Linked DNA regions of Homo sapiens: regions 1 and 2 are each linked to region 3. Evidence: fine-mapped expression QTL. A gene starts in region 3. Each other region holds a variant in brackets. All regions are shown on one strand. Distances are from middle to middle.

Region 1 (6,983 bases), 59 kb after region 3:
TGGGTTAGCTAAGCTCCACTTTACCTAGCATTCCATCCGCAGTAAGTTAAGCCTTGGAATAAAGACTGCATTGGCAAAATTCTTAACATACTACTGTGAGTGCTGGTGAGGGTGTCATAAGATGGACAGTCTTTATATCACTGGTAGGATTGAAAATTTATACCACTCTTCTGGAAAGTAATTTGGCACAGTATAAAAAAGGCTTTTATAATGTCCATTCCCTTTGGTCTAGTTTTCATATTTATAGAAGTCTATCTTAAAGAACTAGGGAAGTGGACATAGATTTATATTAAGAAATCTTAACTTGTATACTACTTATAATAGGGGAAAATTGGAAAGAATCTAAATGCCCTAGAAAAGAGGACTAGTAAATCATGTCAGTTATGTAGCTATATGATGAGATATTTTGCAACCAACTTTCAAATGCCTAATGACATGGAGAGATGCTCATGATATAATGTTGAATTGAAAAACATCAGGATATAACCTTTTATACACAAATATGATCCTTCTTTTTAAAAAAGGGGAATAAGAAAATACATGTTGGCCGGGCGCGGTGGCTCATGCCTGTAATCCCAACAATTTGGAAGACCGAGGTGGGTGGATCACCTGAGGTCAGGAGTTTGAGACCAGCCTGGCCAACATAGTGAAACCCCGTCTCTGCTAAAAATACAAAAAATTAGCTAGGTGTGGTGGCATGCACCTGTAATCCCAGCTACTCAGGAGGCTGAGGCAGGAGAATCACTTGAATCGGGGAGGCAGAGGTTGCAGTGAACCGAGATTGCACCACTGCACTCCAGCCTGGGCAGGCGACAGAGCGAGACTCCGTCTCAAAAAAAAAAAAAGAAAAGAAAAGAAAAGAAAAGAAAATATATGTGTATATACGGTTAAAAAAAGACCAGAAAAAAGCAAATTATTATGAGTGAAGATATTATGGGTGATTTGTGTTTTCTTTTTTAAACTAGCCTGTATTTTTTTCAAATTTTCTACAAATGAGTCTGTATGATTTTTATAGTCAGAAAAAGCAGTAAATGTAGAAATGTCTCCACACACACCCTACATTGCACCAAAAAAGACTTATTTGTCACAGTTGTAGGCAAAAAATGGTTTACGTTAGGGTTGAATTTGCCAATTATCATAATGGGCAAATGGGTTCTGAATCCTCCAGCTTTCTGCACTGTATCGTGATTACGGCCGCTGGTGCCAGTACTGGTGTGTGAGCTCCAGCACGGCCCATCTGCTGCTCAGGCTTGCTTGGCGGACACAGATTTATTTCATTTAGTTTGGTAATTTGGCAACAGTTTCTCTTTTCTCATTATCCTAGCTGGGATTCAGTACCAGTGTTACTCATTTTGTTTGCCAGTTTGTTGTTTTCTTTTGTTCCATTTTGTGAAGATGAAGAAGCCAACAACAGGAATTCTGTCTTCCGAAAATGCAGTGCTTGTCCTTTCGGGATCTTGGGCATGCCTTGCTAAAGTGCTCTCTATTTTTGACACTTGCAAGCCATTTCAATTGTTTGGATAAATAGAAAGCTTCATGGTGTATTTTTCAAAGAGCTTAGCATTCCTTTCCTCTCCCCACTCCACCAAGGAAGATTTGGAAATTGTTCCAAATAGAAATTATAAACATTAGCCTGGAGCTGTGCTGTCTCTGTCTGGTTTTGATGCTTTTTTTGTTTTAACTAAAGGCTCATGTTGTTTGTTTAATCTTCATCAGTACTGCAAAAACACATGGTATAAGACTTAACTCTGCCCCAAGCACCCTACACATAAGAAGGGATTTTCATCTGAATTAGTTTGTATTTCAAAGAGCACTGGGATAGCCAGATTGCTAAGAATTTGCTCAAGTAAAACTTTAGAACTATTGGAATCTTAGAGATGTCTTGAATGGATTTGTTAGGATAGGATGGCTGCTGCCTGAGAATCCTCTTTGAACCTGACACTATTTTTTTTTTTTTTGAGGAGACATTCTTTGTAATACTTTGTGCTACTTTTCTCTCTAGGTTACCCTGAAGAGACTTACCCAATTTATGACCTTTCAGACTGTATCAAGCGTAGGCAAGAAACAATCTTGGTGGATTACCCTGACCCAAAAGAACTTTCTGCTGAAGAAATAGCTGAAAGAATGGGAATGATAGAAGAGGAAGAATCAGATCATTTGGGTTGGGAAAGTCTGCCCACTGACCCCAGAGCCCAGGAAGATAATTCTGTTACCTCGTGTGATCCAAAGCCAGAAACATGTTCCTGCTGTTTTCATGAAGACGAGGATCCTGCTGTCTTGGCAGAGAATGCTGGATTCAGTGCAGATAGCTACCCTGAGCAAGAGGAAACCACCAAAGAAGAGTGGTCCCAAGACTTTAAAGATGAAGGGTTGGGCATCAGCACCGATAAAGCATATACAGGCAGCATGCTGAGGAAGCGTAACCCCCAGGGTTTAGAGTGAAAACAGCCAGTCTGAAGTATCCATTACTCAAGTCCCAAGGTGACCTCTCTCTCCTCAGATTTCCTTCTTGGCCCTGTGCCCTGCACTTTCTTCACTGTGTTCAAGTGTCATAGCTATCAGGCCACTATCATGGATATCATGTATCCTTCCTGGTGCTCACACACCTGTCACCTTGTAAAACACGGACATTAGTGTGAACACAGGACAGCTTCGCTCTTTCTCTTCCTGCCTTTCCTCTATCAGAGAAGTTGATCCATTAAGTAATTATGTTTGGTCTATTGTAATTACAGATGGGACCACTCAGGGGCAAAGGTCTGACTCTTCCTGGTAGGTGTAACAGATAGTTCACCTGTGAACGAACATCAGCTTACAGATGATGAGGACTTAAGGTTGCAAGAATGAAGATTTCAGACTCCAAGATCCCTTATTCTTTGGGCCTTGAGCAGGTTAGTAGTCCCCTGGTGAGAAGAGAACATTTTGTTTGTGGGGCTAATGGGCCCAGAGGAGGGTAAG[A/T]CTCTGCTGTCTAAGCTGAAGCCTCTTCCTCGCAGCGAGGGTCTTCCTAGGAACATTGATGCTGCCTCAGACATCCTCTTTTCTCCAGAGTAGGGAAGACTCCCACTGATCTGAGAATGAGCCCAGAGGCTTGTTTGGGGACTGTTTTACTCTGATACTACCTGGATATCTAGCTTCCTTTACCCCTGTTCTGCTTAACAGAACTGCCAAGCCCAGAAGTACCTTTGCACTCCTGGTTTTCAGTGGACAGAGGAAGCTTTAGATAGAGACTTTAGACCCTGCCCTGCAGAGTCAAGACTTGAGGCCATTGAAGCTGCAGGAAGCCCTGCCCAGGGATGGTCCTGCCATGAGGAGGCTGCAACCCTATAAGAGGGCTCAAGATTGTGAATTCTGCTCCTGCCATGAGGAGCTCAGAAGGCCAGGAAGCCAGCAATAGGGGAGAGAATCTGTGTGCTTATGGACAGTCCTTACCTAAAGCTGTTTCTGAATGTTGCACCCTTTGAGAAATTTCTTCTCAGAACCATAAATTGAAACAAATGAGGACTGATCTTGTATACAAAGTGCCAACTCAAGAGGGAAGTTGGAGTATGTCTGTTGCAGAGAACCAATATAGCAGTGCCCAGGGGTAGAGACCATGTGTTCCATACTCGGATATTTGGGTCTTTTTGAGAGAGCTGGGGAAAGTAGCAGCAACTAGATTAAGACTGGGAGGATTTTGACCAAACTAAAGGCCTTTTCTCCTTACTGCATCTGACGTGTGTCTTCTTGAGACAAGATAGCACCCATGAATTACATCATGAGGTATGTGTGAATTCAGTTTACATGTAAGACCTGAGAGTTCGAAGAGGGCACATTCCCAAAGACATTCCCAGTCATGAAATGTAGAAGACTGGAAAATTAAGACATTATGTAAAGGTAGATATGGCTTTTAGAGTTACATTATGCTTGGCATGAATAAGGTGCCAGGAAAACAGTTTAAAATTATACATCAGCATACAGACTGCTGTTAGAAGGTATGGGATCATATTAAGATAATCTGTCAGCTACTACTAGGCATTTATTGTTAATTGAGTTACAGAAAGTCATTCAAGACTGAGTTTATAGAAAGCATATTGCATCTATCTCTGTGTAGAACATTTGATTCACATTGTGAAGAATGCAGTTTAAAATATACTGAATGCAATCTAGATGTATTGTACACGAAAGGTGAAAAATAACAGGTGCTCTTTACTGTTTAGATAAATTGTTTTCTGTGTTATTTCCCTTCGTTCACTGTGAGGGGTTGATTCATGAGGAGAGCCCTGGGTTCCTGGCTCAGGTTTACTTTTGGCCTTAGGATAGGATTCCCTTATTAGAGATAAATACTGCTGTTCTCTTCTAGCTCATTCATTCATTTAGCAGTCAATTGCTCAGTGCCAGGTGCTAGGAACAGAGGCTCAATCTCTACCCTCAGAAAACTCAGTGTGACGAGAGAGAGCCTGACAGATAAAATGAACTATGACCCTGTAAGAGGGCTCAGGATCGTGAATCCTGCAGGCAGAGAAACATGAGCCATAATCTGTCCCTGCATTTTCTAGCTGTGGAATCTTGGGTCAGCTCCTTAACTGGTCTGAGCTTTGGCTTCAGGGTAGTAAAGGGAGGGGTATTAAAGGTCCTGGTTAAATGAAATCATCAGTGTGTGTAAAACAGCATTGGTTCTAGCTCATACATGATAACCACTCATTAAGTGGTAATTATGTTTTTATTATAAGGGCTATGCTGTAATTCAGACATGGGCCCAAAACTACAGGAAAGATAAATTGTTTTTGCTAAAGTATTGCCAAGAAACTTCACAGTTTCTTGGGAGGTGGGCCTTGAGGCATGCAAAGAACTTCTTCAGGTAGGCAAAGAAGAGAGGACACTCTTGGCAGAAAGAGTTGTTGAAAAAAGCAGTAGGGTGTGAAAATACATGGATGTTCAAGTATTTTGGTGAGGCTGTTATGTAAAGTGTTGTTGGTCTTTGGGGAAAATTGGCTTATGGAAATTCCTGCCAGAAGTACTAAGCCCTTATGGTGGTTCTTCCTGCCCTAGCTCTTGGTTGGTTTATATATAAGGAATATATTTGTGTATTTATATATCAGACATTTGGATGTACCTTTCAGTTATTTAGGATTTAGAAAATTCTTTTTGGATTTTCCAGAATTATTTTATCCTTCGGGGATGACAGTTATATGTGTATATACAACCCAGGATGACAAAATCATGGGTCCGGTTTTTGTTGCCAGGGCTGCTGTCTCTTTTCTTGCGGTCTTCATTTCTCACGAGGGTGCTGGGAACTTGATCAGTCCCCTGGCCTTTTGGCACTGTGGCAGAGTACACAAGTCATACCTTTATGGACAGTTAGCTCACAAAACAACTGCATAATCTGGGATCACTCTTGGTAAATCAGGTGGGTGGTGCAGCCAGGAGATCCCCTTTCCTGGTCACAACAGGAGCACAAAGAAACCATTATCTCCATGACTAGCTCCAGAAGCTGGGCCCAGGGAGTCGTGATGAGGAGTGGAGGTGTATTTGGCCTGTAGAATCAACGGCCTTTGAGAACCATACAATGCACCTTATATGGCTTGGGTGATCAAATAACTTAAGGTCCAAATTCAAACACTTTGGAAAAAGGGAGCTTTAATATAATTATGCCAAGGTGATAGGCATAAACTAAGACTGTCCTGGACGTAGGGTCACCCCTGTCTATAGCCATTTAAGATTTTTGAACCTGATGACTAAACAAACAAAACCCTCTTTCCTTTTTAGAATATCCTGTATGCGCTATTTCCCACCAGAGGCAGAGGCCACAGGAGATAGGCCATGGTTCAGGTAGGAAATGCTCTTGGTCACATCAGAACTCTAGATCTGGGGGAATAAACAAACCCGAATTATTACCACACTCTCAAAGTTCTCTTCAATCTGGACTATTTGTATTCCAAAGAAAAATTTAGTGCTTTAGCTATTCAGCAATATTGAGAAAAAACATGAACACATTTATGACTTTGCCTTGACCATTGACTTTTCTAAAATGTGCTTCCTTTTCCTTTATTTCCCTTTTTTTATACAAAGAAAATAGCCCAAATTTCTCCTCTTAGGTCATTCCTTAACCTCTCAGAGAACCAGTTTCCCCATGAATTGGGAATAATGCTCTATTTACAGGGCTGTTTGGATTAAATAAGATGCTGTTTATAAAGTGTCTGTGCCAGGGCAAAGCATGTGGTAGGTGCTTGGTGACAGCATGATCCCTGTCACCACTCTGTCAAGTCCAGTGTTGCTGAGATGTCACACCTGACACCCTCTAAGGCTACCCTGATTGCCAGGAGTGGCCCAGGGCCCTTCTGCAGTCTCCGGGTGCCTTTAGTTATAACCTCTTGTCTGGGTCAGACCATTAGCTTTCATGTCTGCTTCTAGCTACAACTGTAGCCTCCCTTCCTTTTGCCTTCAAATCTGCCACAGCTGCCCGGCAACAAAAAAAGATTCCTAAGCATCTCGAGGTCCTGTTTAAATGGGTTAGGGTCCAAGCAAGCCCTGAGACATCAAGTGGTTGGGTCTTTTATACCTTTTTCATCTCTACAGCCCTGTTCTCTTCCTAAGGCCAGGCCCACAGGGGATACTGAGGAACCACCAGCCCCTTCAGGCGGCACAGCAGACCCTGAAGAGAACTGCTCTAACTTAAGTACCTTCTGACTTCACCATTTTTCCAGCCTCTGGGTGTGGTTCTGATGAACCTTAAACTTGAAAGGCACAGGCCAGAGGAAGGACAGTGTTGACCCACATGTCATTGGTGAGGTTATGATCTCTTTGCTATTATCACCTACTTACCCACCTGAGGCTCCTAGGAAACAATGAATGAAAGGTATAGAAAAAAATTAGGAAGTAAACAGGGCTTTTTTCCCCTTTATGAAAAAAGTACACAGAAGTGTTGAAACGATTCAAGTTTAATTTGTTGATATATGTGTGTACTTAGACAAACACTAAATTCTACAACATACATAATGTCAACATGG
Region 2 (6,983 bases), 47 kb before region 3:
CTGAGGGGCCCAGACTCTCTTGGCAAAGGCAAGATTTTATCCTCACTAAACCCCCAGATCCTCTCCCAGTCTGCACCCCTTTTTCTCTCTACAACTCATGCCCTAGCGAGGGCTTGATCCACAGAGGGGAAGGGTCCTCGGACACTTAACGTTCCTCACTGCACATCCTGCATGACCATGTCACCGGGCCTGGCCTGTGCTGGCTGCTGGGTGGGACGAGCAATTCCAGGTGCTGACCAGAGGCGGTGCAGGCAGCCTGTCCCATGCCTGAACTGGAGGTTTATCAGTGGGGCAGGCCCCAGTGCATCCTTACTCTGTCAGTCCGTCCCAGACATGACCACGCTATACGCCAGGCACGGTGCTGGAAGCAGGCTACGGGATGGAAACACCAGTGAACAAGGTCATTCTCTGTGTGGTTTACAGTCTAGTGAGGGAGACAGACAATAAACAAATAAAAAGATCAATAACAGGCTAAAGACAGTGCCGGGTGGCAGGGAGAAGCTGGAGGGAAGTCTACTCAGAGAGAGTGGGCAGGGATGAGAGTTTCTTGCCCACCACCCTTAGAGACCATCTTATCCGATGGGCTCACTATGGGGAAACTGGGGCCCGGAGAGGAAGTGATGGCCAGGGGCACACTGGAACCAGCCTGGGTTGGGAGTCTGGGTTCCTGGCCCTCAGCCTGGCCCAGGGCTCTGTGTCCTACATCCTGTGACTTGCGTTCCAGCCAAGGATCCTCCTGGGGCACACAGTGGGTGGAGGAAAGGAAACTCCACTCAGCCCTGACACCTGCTCAGTGCTTCTCTTCCTTTGTTTGCCACTTAATAAGAAACATTACTCCTTAAAATGCCAAGAAACTGGGTTTGGGTTCTTGGCTTCCACCACCAGTCTGCCTGCCCCATAATGCCACCAACTTGGGACACATTGACTAGATCCATGGCTTCTGGGGATTCCAGTGGGATTGTTCCAGACACTTGGAGTGACTGCCCTGTATAGCGTATGCATTAAGAAGGCAGGATTCTCTGCAGACTCAGCACGAGTAGTGTTCTGGGGAAAAAACAATTCACTGTAAAAGCAGGAATGTGCAATGCCCAAAGGGCCGCAGGACGCCAGGAACTGGCAGGACCAGCTCTCCTGTTCCTTTTCTCCGGCCGTTGCCTCTTTCAGCCCGGCTGGTTAGTTCTGATGGGGGAGGAGCTCTGAGCTGAGGCTCACCTCTGGGGCCTCTGTTGGACCTTCCTGGCTCCTGGGGTCCAGAGGTGGGCCGAGGCAGGGAGAGGTGTGCCGAGGCAGGGAGAGGTGTGCCGAGGCAGGGAGAGCTGGGCCGAGGCAGGGAGAGGTGGGCCGAGGCAGGGAGAGGTGTGCCGAGGCAGGGAGAGCTGGGCCGAGGCAGGGAGAGGTGGGCCAAGGCAGGGAGAGCTGGGCCGAGGCAGGTGGGTTTCTCTTAGCTGTGCATCACAGGCCGAGGTGTGGTGGCTCCTGTCTGCTGCCAATGACATGCCCATTAGGCACCCCCTGAGGGAAAGGTTGTTTTGTCTGGGTCCTGTAGACTCCCCTCCCTGCTTCACCTGGGCTTTCAGGTCTATGGGTTCCTGAAATCAGTCAAGGTGATGGTAGGGCCCCTTGCTCCTGGTCCAGGCACATCAGGCCACCATCCATTCCTAGCCTCTCTCACAGTGAAGGAGTGAGGGTGACTTTGCACAAAGTACGGTTGGGGTGGGCACCCCCTTCTCTGAGTTCCCGTGGGCTGCTGCCCCTCAGCCGGGAGCTCTGCTGGCCCAAACCTCTCCTTCACCCTCCCCTGCACCTGCCTTCTTATTTAGGGCCTATCTGGAAGCTAATCCCCGTGCTTATTAGATGACCCCTCATCCTGTCCCTCTGCTTTCATTAGAGACAAGAGAGCTAATTACCAGCCCCTCTGAGGCCCCACTACGGCCATTTTAGAGCTGAGGCAGCCCTTAAAATGATTTAAAAATCCCATTTCCCTGCAATGAAATAGACTACCCTTCCCTCCTCATTAAGGCTAATTACAAAACATTTCCCACCTGAGAGGGGCCTGCTCTTGTCCTCCCACCCACCCCCACCTCCAGCAGTGGCTCCCCAAAGAAGCCTCCCCAGGCTGGGAAGGGAGGCAAGGGAAGCATCAGAGGCTCTTCTCCCTCCAGGAAGACATCCCGGTAAGTTCTGGAAGGCTGAGCCTAAAGCAGCCGGAGGCAGGATGCGTGCAGGTTGTGGGGGTTGGATGGAGAAATGTTGAGAAGGGGAAAGACAAAACCAGGTTTGAATGGTGGGCACCACCCCTTCTAGGGCCGTCATGCTGCAAAACTGCAAAACTTCCCCCACCAAGTCCAAAACGTGAGCATGTCCTACAGGAAGGAGAACCAGGTCAGGCTCTCAGGACTCATTGGAGCTCTTTGTGGTCCTGGAGTTTCCAAGATGGAGCCCCTTGGGCTCATCAGCAGATACACAGAGTGGAAGAGGTGGTGGAAAGCACGCCCAACAAATACGGCGTGGCCTTTCCCTGGAAAACCAGCACTCATTACCTCCAGAAGCAGCTCAGCTCTTCAAAGGGGGCCTCCGCCCAGGTGCCTCAGACTCCAGAAAATGATGCTGACATTATCCTTAATTGTCTTCTTCCCCTCTGCCCCCTGCCTGGGACAAGCAAAGTGGAAAAACCAAATTAAAAACTCAGGCTATCAAAAAAGGAGCACTTTAAAAATTTCAGCATATATATATGTTTGTCATATATATGTTATATATAAAGGTTTGTTTCATTTCAAAAACATAACTTTATTTTGCAGTTTAGATATTTTTATTTTAAATCCCATAGGGGGTTGGATGCTCTCATCTTTTTTCTTTAGCATAGGGCCTCTAACCTAGGCTCTGGACTCCATTTAGCTCTGCTCTCTCTCTATGCAGCATGGGGCTGTGCAACGTAATCTTTGAGGTTCATCCCTCTCCCACATTCTTGGAAACTGTGAGTCCCATTCCATGGGACATTTGGTGTGGACTGTTTCTGCATGCTTTCTTCCCAACCCC[G/A]CCTTTGGTAGGGGGCTGTAGATTGGTGGTGTGCAGTAGATGGACCCCAATGTTTAGCTCACAGCCAAGCTTTGTCAAAGGGGTAATATAGAGCAAAAAAGTGGCATGATCTATTTTGTTGGGGACCCCAAGGCCTTCCCAATGTGATCCCTGGGCCAAGCAGGAATAGACTCTGCCTTCCATCACTGAGTTTGTCTCTGGTGACCCTCAACACCAGCAGTGCTTTGAAGAATGGGACACCATATTCTTCACTCCCCTTCAGACACTCTCCTAGTCTTGTACACCTTCAAGCTTTGCTTTCTGATCTTTGCAGAGAAACATTTAGGCCAGGATAAAGACTTCATATAAAGGAAGGGGCACAGGTTCCAGAGTCCCAAGATAGATGCAGATTCTGGGCTCCTGATCCCATCTGGGTAGGGACCAGATCCCCATTATACTTCTGGTTGTCTTTATTCCCTGTTAGAATGCACACTTCCACCTTTCCCCACCACTGACCAGTAGACCTTTGTCCAGCAAAATAATGCCCTTGGGCCTGAAGAGACCTTAGAGGCAGAATATCAAGGGCCCCTTGCTTTTAGTGGGCAATCTACGTTTTTATATTAGCGGTTACAGGTTTCTACCCTCTAGGAACTTACCCACCCAGTGGGGCCAAAGACAACAACCCATTATAGAAATGTTTCTGCTTATTAAAGCCCTATAACTCCCATTGCTATATTTTGTCTCCCAGTCTCCCTGGGAGTACACAGGTTAAGAGTCCCAGTTTACAGGGAAGGACATAAAATATATTGTAATGTAGTTAGATCATGCAGAGGACAGAAGAGGAATCAGCTCTCCTTCCTCTTGGGACAGGGTGCCTGCTCTGTACCTTAGTGTAGACCACTAATAGAAGCAATACATGGTGAGAGTGGATGCATGGATATTGTGTTGTGAGAATTCTGAAGAGGAGATGGCCCACGTGGCAGAAAATATCTGAGAAGAGGCAAGTACTGAGCTGCTTCTTACAGAAAGACTAGCTAGAAATATGAGGGACGGCCTTACAGGTACAGAGGGAAGCCTGTAATCTTGACTTGTCAAAACAGAAGAAGGGACACTGGGAAGTGGAGTGTGCCTAGAATGGAAGTGGGGGACAGGGAATTGGAAGCTGAGCAGAAGAGTTTAAGCCTTTATGTAGTAGGCAATAGAGAGCTCGCGTTATGAGCCGGGCATAGCACACATGTCCACTGCTGTTTTCTAAGTTGTGAATCTTATGGACACTTGGAAAATGTATTTTCCTGTGGGTACCATAGGTAACCTTACTGGCTCTCACTTAGCAAAGCCCTACCTCTGTAAGGGCACAGTGACCTGCTGTGAAGCAGGAGTATCAAGGAAGAATGCTTTTGGTGGCTCAGGCTGGGGCCCAGGGAGCAAAACGGGCTTATTGGAGCTGGGGCTAGGATTTATCTGCATGGAGATACAGAGAAAGGACACTTCAGGCTGAGACAAAAGCAAATGTAAGACCTAGCAGTGCTAGGGGGGCTCAGGGAGGAGCAGGCAGCCAGATGTGCTGGGAGGTGAGGGGGCTTATTGGAAGTAGTGAAGTGGTCTATGGGTAAAGGGAGTAAAGTTGATGGAGATATTGGATGGTCTGTGTCCTGGGGCACAGGGAATAGAACTAGGGTTAAAGAGCACTGTTTATTGGGGAGGACTTTGAGGCCCGATAGACCAGAAAGGTTCAGCAGGTGGCAGAGTCTAGCAAAATGGTGTGATGTTTTGAAACACACCTCTGCCAAGGGGTAATAATGCTCATTGCAAGTGGAGGTGACCACTCTCTTGGCTAAAAATTGAGCATGATATGGCCTGGGGCAAAACCCTGTGGCTGGCCATGCAGTACTTCCTATCATACTACCATTATTTGGTGTTCTTTTGGGAGTGATTCTTCAAACAGCTGAGTAATATCACGTCAGATGCAGTTTTCCATCACAAGCGTGGATGAGGTTATGAAGGAACTTACCAAGAATCCAGACACTGAAAAGCATCCCTGAGAGCAGTCTAGTGACCTAGGCAGAAAAAAAAGTGATGTTGATTTAATTCATCCATCAACGCATCCGTCCATCCATCCTTCTTGCCATTCTTCCTTCCATCCAGATTTCTGTCTATCCAAGGTATGTCGAGTGTGTAATGTAGTATAAGGCAAGAAAGGTGAAAAGACAAATGAACCAAAGCCCCTGCCCTCAAGAAATCTCACAGAAAGGAGGGGAGTCAGGAGCCAGCCTGTTAAAAAGTCATAACTCAGTGTGATTGGCGTCATGTCAGAGCTCTGAACAGAGGTTTCAGAAAGAAGGAAGAGAAGGTGACTAACTTTGCCTGGGAGAAGGGAAGGTTTCAGAGGGAAGGACACTTGAACTATCAAACGTGGAAGGATGAGTATGCCCGGCAGCAGGTAAAGGCACAGAAGTGGGAGACAGTGGGGCTTAGTTGGAGGGTGACCAAGCACTCAATGCACCTGCAACCCAGAACGCAGAGGCCTTGGAGGAAAGCAGCAAGCCTGCTGGAAGGGGCTCTCGTGCCAGGCCAGGGAGATAGACCTTTACCCTGGAGGCAACCAGGAAATGTCAAAACTTTGTAAGTGGAACAAAGGCACAATAAGGCCTGAACTTTTTGGGAAATCACTCTGCAGTGACATAAAGAGTGAATCATGGCAGGAAGTAGTGGCTTACGCCTGTAATCCCAACACTTTCAGAGTCTATGGTGGGAGGATTGCTTGAGTCCAGGAGTTCAAACCTGAGCAACATAGCAGGAGTCTGTCTCTACAAAAATAATTTTAAAAATTAGCCGGGCATGATGGTGTGCACCTAGCTAGTTGGGAGGCTAAGGTAGGAGGATCACTTGAGCCCAGGAGGTCAAGACTGCAGTGAGCCATGATTACACCACCGCACTCCAGTCTGGCAGTAGACACCAGGAATGGGGACAGGGCAGACAGCAGGGGTGAGGACACCTGCAGCTTCTTCTATTGTACAGATGAGGAATGAGTTTTTCATGACTTGCTCTTCATGAGCCTTTGCCAGACTTTTTTGTTTTTCTCTCCATTCAGTAAGTACTAGAACCCTCTTGGGGATAGAGAAGGCAAGTTCTTCCATCCAGTCATTGCGTCCTAGGCCTGCTTTGAGTTTTATCCACTCTCTGCTCCCAAGGCATCTTCAAGCACAGAGAATAAAATGGCCAAAGAAAAGGTGTTCACACTGGGCAAATAATTTCTGATGAAATGAAGTGAACTGTGGTTACCTCCTCAGCCCCCCACCACCAGGGTATTTGGGGCTCATTGAGAAAGGAATTGAGAATGATGCCAATATCCCAAATGGCTCATATGGGGCATTTTCTGTTAGTGGAAGGTCCCTCTACAATAAAAACAGGTTGAGAAATGAGGTAAACACTTACTTTGGCATAATAATTCCAGGTAATAATTATTGGAGAGAAATTAAAATCAGGTAACCAGGAGGAATATGTATTCCTCTGGTAATAATTAGCTTTGAATTTTGTGAATTTTGTGAATTTCTGTTAGGTAAATCTAGGAGGAAGCAATGCATCCACGTCTGGTTTAGAGGTTGAACTAGAGCCAAAGCATGAGCGCCTTCCTCACTCACAGGAACAAGACAGCATCTACCTGAGACACCCTCTGTAGTGGACATTTAGGGGACTTTGAAGCTCCAGTCCACAGATGATTAGTCCAAAACAAAGAAGTGTACCTGGACCCTATTAATGGTCTAGGGTGTGTAGGTATCCAAATTGTTCTTATCAGACTAAGGACTAATATCCCATGACAGGATGAGAGGTTTCCTATCTTTCTATATGTGAATAAGGAAAGAGGTGGTTCTTTTTGTCACTGCTAGCCATCATGACCATAAAGGAGACCAGTCTTAAGACGAAGATGGCACCAAGGAAGGCGGAATGGAGGAATGGAAAAATCTATG
Region 3 (6,983 bases):
GCCACTGCGCCCGGCCTGTCTTCCTCTAATGAAAACTAGGCTGTTGCCTCTGGGTTCTGTTTCCCTTGCAGATCTCCCAAAGTAAGAGCTATTTTTCTTCCCACAGCTTAAAGCCTGGGAATAGAATAGATGCCCAACTTGTTTCCCCTTGCTGCTTCCAAATTGCTTCTTCCTCTTCTTCCTTTAAAAACCATAGCTCCTGGCCAGGCGCTGTGGCTCATGCCTGTAATCCCAGCACTTTGGGAGGCTGAGGTGGGTGCATAACAAGGATCGAGACCATCCTGGCTAACATAGTGAAACCCCATCTCTACTAAAAATACAACAAAAAAATTAGCCGGGCGTGGTGGCGGGCACCTGTGGTCCCTGCTACTTGGGAGGCTGAGGCAGGAGAATGGCGTGAAGCCAGGAGGCGGAGCTTGTAGTGAGCCGAGATTGCACCACTGCACTCCAGCCTGGGCAACAGAGCAAGACTCCATCTCAAAAATAAATAAATAAATAAATAAATAAATAAAAATTTTTAAACAATTAAAAAAAAACACAGCTCCTTAGAAGAGCATGTCATCTGGCTGCCCATTACTTCTTCTGTTCCTGTCACCTTCCAACCTTGTAGTAACTCCACATTCATTAAAGATTTTAACACTTGGATCACTATTTCCCACCTCATTTCTGTCCTCATACATGGGAACTTCAACATAATGTTGTGACCTAGGTTTCCATTGTGGCTTCTTACAACTTCACATGAGCACTCTCACTAATGCCATCTTCTCCTAGACTTCATTTACTATAGATGGGCTGATGATTTCCTATTGTTTCTAGCCCAAACATCTCTTCTGAGCTCCAGGCCCATATATCCAACTGGATATTTCTACTTGGATATTTCATGGAACTTCAAATTCAGCTAGTCAAAATCTGAACTCTTCATCTTTCTCACAAACCTGATTCTTCTATTCTTAAAATCATGTTATATAGAATTAATGTCTACCATTTACCCAAGCTAGAATTTGGTGGCGGAGGGCGGGGGGGAGTGTGGTCATTCCAGACCCCTCTGTATTTCTTAGAGACCACATCCCATTAGTCACCTCCTCCCTAAGCTGCATCTATAGTCCAGGAGTCCAGAGGTTTTCTGACTAAACCTCCCCAGACAGTAAACCTGGTAGCTAAGAGGGCAAATTCTTGAGTAAGCATGCCTGTGTTCAAATCATAGCATCCAGTTTATACTGTGTAATTGTTGGCAAGTAAATTATGTTTTCTGGGGCTCCATTTTCTTACCTGTGAAATGGGTATATAATAATATTGCTTACCTCTTGAAGTTATTGGGAGGAATAATTATGATATGTAAGATGCCTAAAACATAATTAGTACTCTAACTTTTAGTGATGTTAATAACATCAATGATAATAATGCCCGAGTGAAGCCAGCAGTGGCACCCATCTGGCTGCATGAATCAAGGAAAGAGATTCAGAAGATATCCATTGCTTTAAAAAAATCAAACAATTTTTTTTTAGAGACAGGGTCTCACTCTGTCACCCTGGCTGGAGTGGGTGCCCCTACTGGCTTCATTCAGGCATTATTATCATCTTATATATCATAATTAATTGTGGTTTCACACAATCATAGCTCACTGCAGCCTCAAACTCTTGGGCTCAAGTGATCTTCCCACCTCAGCTTCCTGAGTAGTTGGGACTACAGGTGCACACCACCATGCCTGGTTAATTTTTTACATTTTTTTGGTAGAGATTAGGGCTCTCCCTATGTTGCCCAGGCTGGCCTTGAACTCTTGGCCTCAAGCCATCCTCCAGCCTTGGCCTCCCAAAGCCCTGGGATTATAGGTGTGAGCCACTGTGCCCAGTCTCAACTGCTTTTTAATCAGATTTCCAGCCAATCCTTCATTCAGACCCACTCTGCACCCTTGGCTTTAAAGGAACCCAGTACCTCCAATTCTTAAGAGCATGGGTTCTGAGGGGCAAATTAGTTCACTCCTTACAGGCTTTCAGTCCACAGGCATTTAACTTTTTATGCTCTACACCTGCACTGTCTACTGTGGGCGCCAACGAGCCACACTATCGTGCTGATAAAATTTGAAATATTTTTGCTATCTTGGTTTAAAATATTATTAAAATAAATTTTACTTATTTTTACTTTTTAAATGTGGCTACTGGAAAAATTTAAATTACATATGTGGCTGGTATTATGTGTCTATTGGACAGTGTTGTGTGCGTCTTACAAAATTGACATTTCTCATCTGCTGTCATGTTTTCTATCATTGCATTTAGTCTTGTAGTTTATATACTTTATTTCTTTATTTTCCTTTTTGGGCACTGTCCCAGGAAAGCAAAGATAAATGCATATGTTACATCTGTCATGTTTAACTGGAAGTTCTACCTAAGCTTTTCACAATGTAGCTCCTGCTTATATTTGTGCACTTCGTGTCCTGTCACTACTCTATGGCCCTGCCAAAATGAATTACCAATAGCTTTCTGAACACACCAGGAAGCTTCCAGATTTGCCTTTATTTTTTTGGCCTCCTTTTTCCGGAATACCTTTCTAACCCCTCCCACCTGTCTGCCTATAAGTTACTCATTTTTCAACAGCTAACTCAATTTCACCTTCTCAAAGGGGCTTTTCTTGACTTTTCCTCGTACCAGTTGAGAAGACTGCTCGGGGATCCAGAATATTTCCTGCATTTTTTTTGTTTGGATAATTATCTGTCCTACAAAGGGAATCCATTTTATTCATCAGACCCTGTAGTGCCAAGTTGAGGGTCTAATACATAGTAAAAACTAAAATAATGTTAAATGAACGAATGAAGAGAGTAACAAAGAACGGTGGGATTGTAGAGAAAGGAGAGGCTGACTGAAAACGTTTCGAGAGAGCAGTGTTTTTAAGCTGTTCTTCAGAGAAGTTTTTGACAACTGGAGATGGTGTCAGGAATTTTCCAGGCAGTGGGAACAGGACAAGCAAAGCTTCCCTGAAGACAAGCAATATGCTAAAGAAATAGCAAATCATCCAGTTTGGAAGGAGCATTGGTAAGACCAGATCATGCAGGGCGTTGAGGTTATAGAAAGGAGTTTAACTATTGTTCTGAAGATAATGGAGAGTTAAAAGGTTTAAGCTGGAGAGAAAGAGAATTAGTCTTGTGTTTTAGCATTATCACCTGTGGCTGCAGACGGATAATGAATGCGAGGGGCATGAGTGGAAGCTGGAAGACAGCGAGATCATGGAGATGAGGAGAAACTGGATGTTGTGATCTACGGGTGGGTGGGGGGCAGTGGTGGTAAGTGGGGATAGAGATCCGGGCACGACCGCCGGATGTGTAGGCGGTAGAATGCACAGGACTCAGTAAAAGATGAACATGGGGAGTGAGGGAGGAGTTTTTAGTTAGTATGAACGGGAAGGCGAGGGTACCATTTACAGCGACGGGTAACCACGCGGGAGGAGCAGGTCAACTCCCGACAGTGGAGGTGAAGATGCGTGCGCCTCGCGCACCTTGTCCCTCGCGCGACGCCGTCCGCGCCGCCCGCGGTTCGGTCGGGAGCGGCAGCCCGTGCTCCGGTTCCGGTTCCGGTTCCGGCTGGCGTCTGCACCTGCGACCACCGTGAGCAGTCATGGCGTACTCCACAGTGCAGAGAGTCGCTCTGGCTTCTGGGCTTGTCCTGGCTCTGTCGCTGCTGCTGCCCAAGGCCTTCCTGTCCCGCGGGAAGCGGCAGGAGCCGCCGCCGACACCTGAAGGTAAGAGCAGGCCAGCTCCCTCTGAGCTTCCCGGCGCCGAAGAGTACGGAGAACGCTGCTTGAGGGAGGGGTGACTCTGAGAGTCTGCAGCCTTCACCGAAATATCCACCAAACTGACTGGAGAGGGCGGGCGAGACGGCGTTGAAGGGCCAATGCCCACGGTTCCGTTGTTATCAGCGGGTGGCGGCCCAGATGGTTCTGCTGCTGGAAGGGTCAGGAACGTATGCATGCAGGTCTGTGCATCCTCTAGGTGGCCTTGCGTACTCCCGTTTAGGCGCAGTCCCTTCTCTCTTACCCCGCTGGCTTAACTCATCTCGTCACCATTTGTTCACGTGCTTTGAGTCAAGGGTTCCCAGTTGGGTTTCCCTCTTTAGGTTTTCCGTGTACTTTCTGACGCGCCGCTTGGTACGAAATCAAGGCAAATGGAATTGGTACAGCAAACCTTAAGTCGTTATGTTTTTTCAACTTGGTGCTGGGCGCTCACTGCTTCAGGCTCTTCTTGTGCCTTTAAAAATATATCTTGAAGATTTTAATAACCCCAGTTTCAGTTACTGAGGTGGTTATGAACAAATTATTACGTTCCCCTTATTGAAACAGTATTTATCTGTTAATTCTTCGTTGTTGGCATGATGTATGTGGTGTTTAAAAATTCATCCTCTTAGCTGCACTGGGGCCTTTTACAGAATGAGTGTAAAGGCACGGTGCTGAAGGCTGGGAGAAGGAACCAGAACAGTTTTCTATAGGTCATGAAGTTCTACTGGTAACTTTCTCCTGTAAATTATCCTTGTAATATCTTTGAGACATGATTTTACGGTGTCTGAACACTTCCAGTAATGTTTAAACTGTTGATTGCTGGACAGCTCCTTTTGAACTGTAATCCACTTCCGTCTGCTTTATGCACATTGACTGTAGTTCCATTCTCTTGAGCATCATACACACTATAAATGCAAAGCACCAAGCTTTAGGGGTGGAGGGCAGGTTGAACACATAATTCTGTTTACAGAATTTGCCTGATAATCTTTATGCTTGTAAGACTATCCACTTGGGACGGACTTCTAAAACATCTTTGCGTATTTGTTCTTTTTTTTTCCTTTCTGTCTTATTGCAATAATCCCAAAGATTTTTACCTGCTTTGTCTAATGATATTGTCTACTTTGAAGAAGAGTCAATTCATGATGATCCTGAACAGTGAAGATTCTTCGAAAACTTTTTTTTTTTTTTTTTTACTTTCCATTATGGTGAATTATCTTGAACAAGTACTATTGACTGTGAGTGGGAGACACTCTTCTGAACGTTGTAGAAAATGTAGAGTGGAGATTAGACATGGGTTGTTCCCTTGAGAACTCAAGTGTTGGTATTCAGTGTTCTCATGTTAGGATCTTTGTACCTTCAGTTCTCTTTATTCCTGAAGTGCTGTGCTTTTCCCTCAGTGCCCTTCTCATCATTCAAATTTCTGCTCAAATGAAACCTCCTCAGAGAGACTTCCCCTGATGACACTAACTAAAATAACTCTTTTCTCCCATCATTCTCTATTTTATCATGTTTTATATTCTTCATGATAGGCATCACTATATGATATGGAATATTCTTAAGTGTTTACTTGTTTGTTTTTTTGTCTTCACCTTCTAGAATGTAAGTTTGCAAGGGTAGGGACTTTGTCTTGTTTACCACTGTTTCTTCAGTACCTGGCATATAATGGGCAGTCAATAAATACTTTAAGATTATTAAGCTACCAATACTGTAAATTCTGTTTTTGACAAGGAGAAGCTACTGAAGTAGTATAACCTAGGAAAAAACTTACCTTGAATGGTACATTCCAGTAACTGAAACTTGCAGCAAAAAATCTTAACCATTTTGGGGTTACATACACCATTGAGAATCTTATAAAAGCTATGTATTTTCTTTCTTTCTCTCTCCTTCCTCCCTCTGTCCCTCCCTCCCTCCTTTCCTCTCTTCCTGGCCCCCTTTCCCTTTCTCTTTCCCTTTCCCTGGGTCTCACTCTGTCACCCAGGCTGGAGTGCAGAGTCATGATCACAGCTCACTGCAGCCTCTACTTCTAGGGCTCAACTGATCCTCCCACCTCAGCCTCCCAAGTAACTGGGACTACAGGCACATGCCACCATGCCTGGCTAATTAAAAAAAATTTTTTTTGTTTTTGGTTGAGATGGGGGTCTCATTGTATTGTCCAGGCTGGTGTCGAACTCGTGGGTTCAAGTGATCCTTCTGCCTCAGCCTTCCAAAGTGCTGGGATTACAGGCTTGAGCAACTGCACTCAGCCTAAAACTGTATGTTCTCTCTAGAAAAAGGTACATACTCTTATTGTACTCAGAATTTCAGTATCAATTCAGAGAATTCTCAGAACCCAGAAATCCCTGCTTTGAAGAAAGGAATAACCCTGAGTATTTGAAAATTCTTAAAAATACATGTTGTTATGTCTTCCATTTTTGCCCATTGATGTGCATGAAACAAGCACAGTTCCCTTTCCACATGAAAGCCTTTAAGATAGTCTTTTAACAAATATTTATGATGTACCATATCACATACTGTGCACATAGTGTATAGACACTATGTATTCCAAGAAAAAATGAGCGAACTCCATGCTTTGAGGCGGCCACAGTTTAGTAAAGGAAAGTAGACATGTCAACAGATAAATGCAAAACAGACATGTTAGCAGATAAATGCAAGAGTGTCAGTCACAGTTACTCAAGTCTGCGCAGGGAACAATGGAGACATGTATGCAATGGTCAGTGTTATTGGGACTTAAGAAGGGTTTCATAAACCAGGTGTGACAGCTCATGCCTGTAATCCCAGCATTTTGAAAGGCTGTGGTGGAAGGATTGCTTGAGCCTGGGAGTTCGAGACCAGCTTGGGCCACATAACAAGACCCCCATCTCTACAAAATAAGTTTGTTTTTTTTCAATTAGCTGGGCATGGTGGTGTGCACCTGTAGCCCCAGCTACTCTGTAGGCTGAGGTGGGAGGATCGTTTGAAGTTTGGAGGTCAAGGCTACAGTGAGGTGTGATTGTGTAACTGCACTGCAGCCTGGGCAACACAGTGAGACTCTGCCAAAAAAAAAAACAAAACAAAACAAAAAAAAAACCCCAAAAAACAGGTTTCATAGAACATAGAGGAGGGAAGTCTTTTTTTTTTTTGATAACAGCTTTCTTGAGATCTAATTTATATATCATACAATTCACCCACTTAAAGTGTACAATTTATTGGGTTTCAGCATATTCAGAGTTGTACAACCATCA

What was found. PIP is the estimated chance that this variant, and not a neighbour inherited with it, causes the effect. A credible set is the group of variants that fine-mapping cannot tell apart.
Region 1: its variant is the best candidate, but not a certain one, in a credible set for the expression of RIC3 in testis (GTEx, PIP 0.65).
Region 2: its variant is the best candidate, but not a certain one, in a credible set for the expression of RIC3 in whole blood (TOPMed, PIP 0.76).

The regions. Positions count from the first base shown.
Region 1 is chr11:8,106,157-8,113,139 of GRCh38, reverse strand. RIC3 (RIC3 acetylcholine receptor chaperone) reads left to right here. Exons shown (of 6, transcript NM_001206671.4): 6 at 2,003-6,983. The coding sequence ends at 2,442. It overlaps TUB (TUB bipartite transcription factor), which reads right to left. Exons shown (of 12, transcript NM_177972.3): 12 at 6,897-6,983. Among named protein-coding and RNA genes, the nearest start is that of TUB, 28 kb to the right of the region's middle. The variant A/T (reference allele first, on the strand shown) is at 2,956.
Region 2 is chr11:8,212,282-8,219,264 of GRCh38, reverse strand. No RefSeq gene overlaps it. Among named protein-coding and RNA genes, the nearest start is that of RIC3-DT, 47 kb to the right of the region's middle. The variant G/A (reference allele first, on the strand shown) is at 3,037.
Region 3 is chr11:8,165,612-8,172,594 of GRCh38, reverse strand. It overlaps RIC3 (RIC3 acetylcholine receptor chaperone), which reads left to right and starts at 3,570. Exons shown (of 6, transcript NM_001206671.4): 1 at 3,570-3,729. The coding sequence starts at 3,606. It overlaps RIC3-DT (RIC3 divergent transcript), which reads right to left and starts at 3,525. Exons shown (of 5, transcript NR_187234.1): 1 at 3,406-3,525; 2 at 2,607-2,710.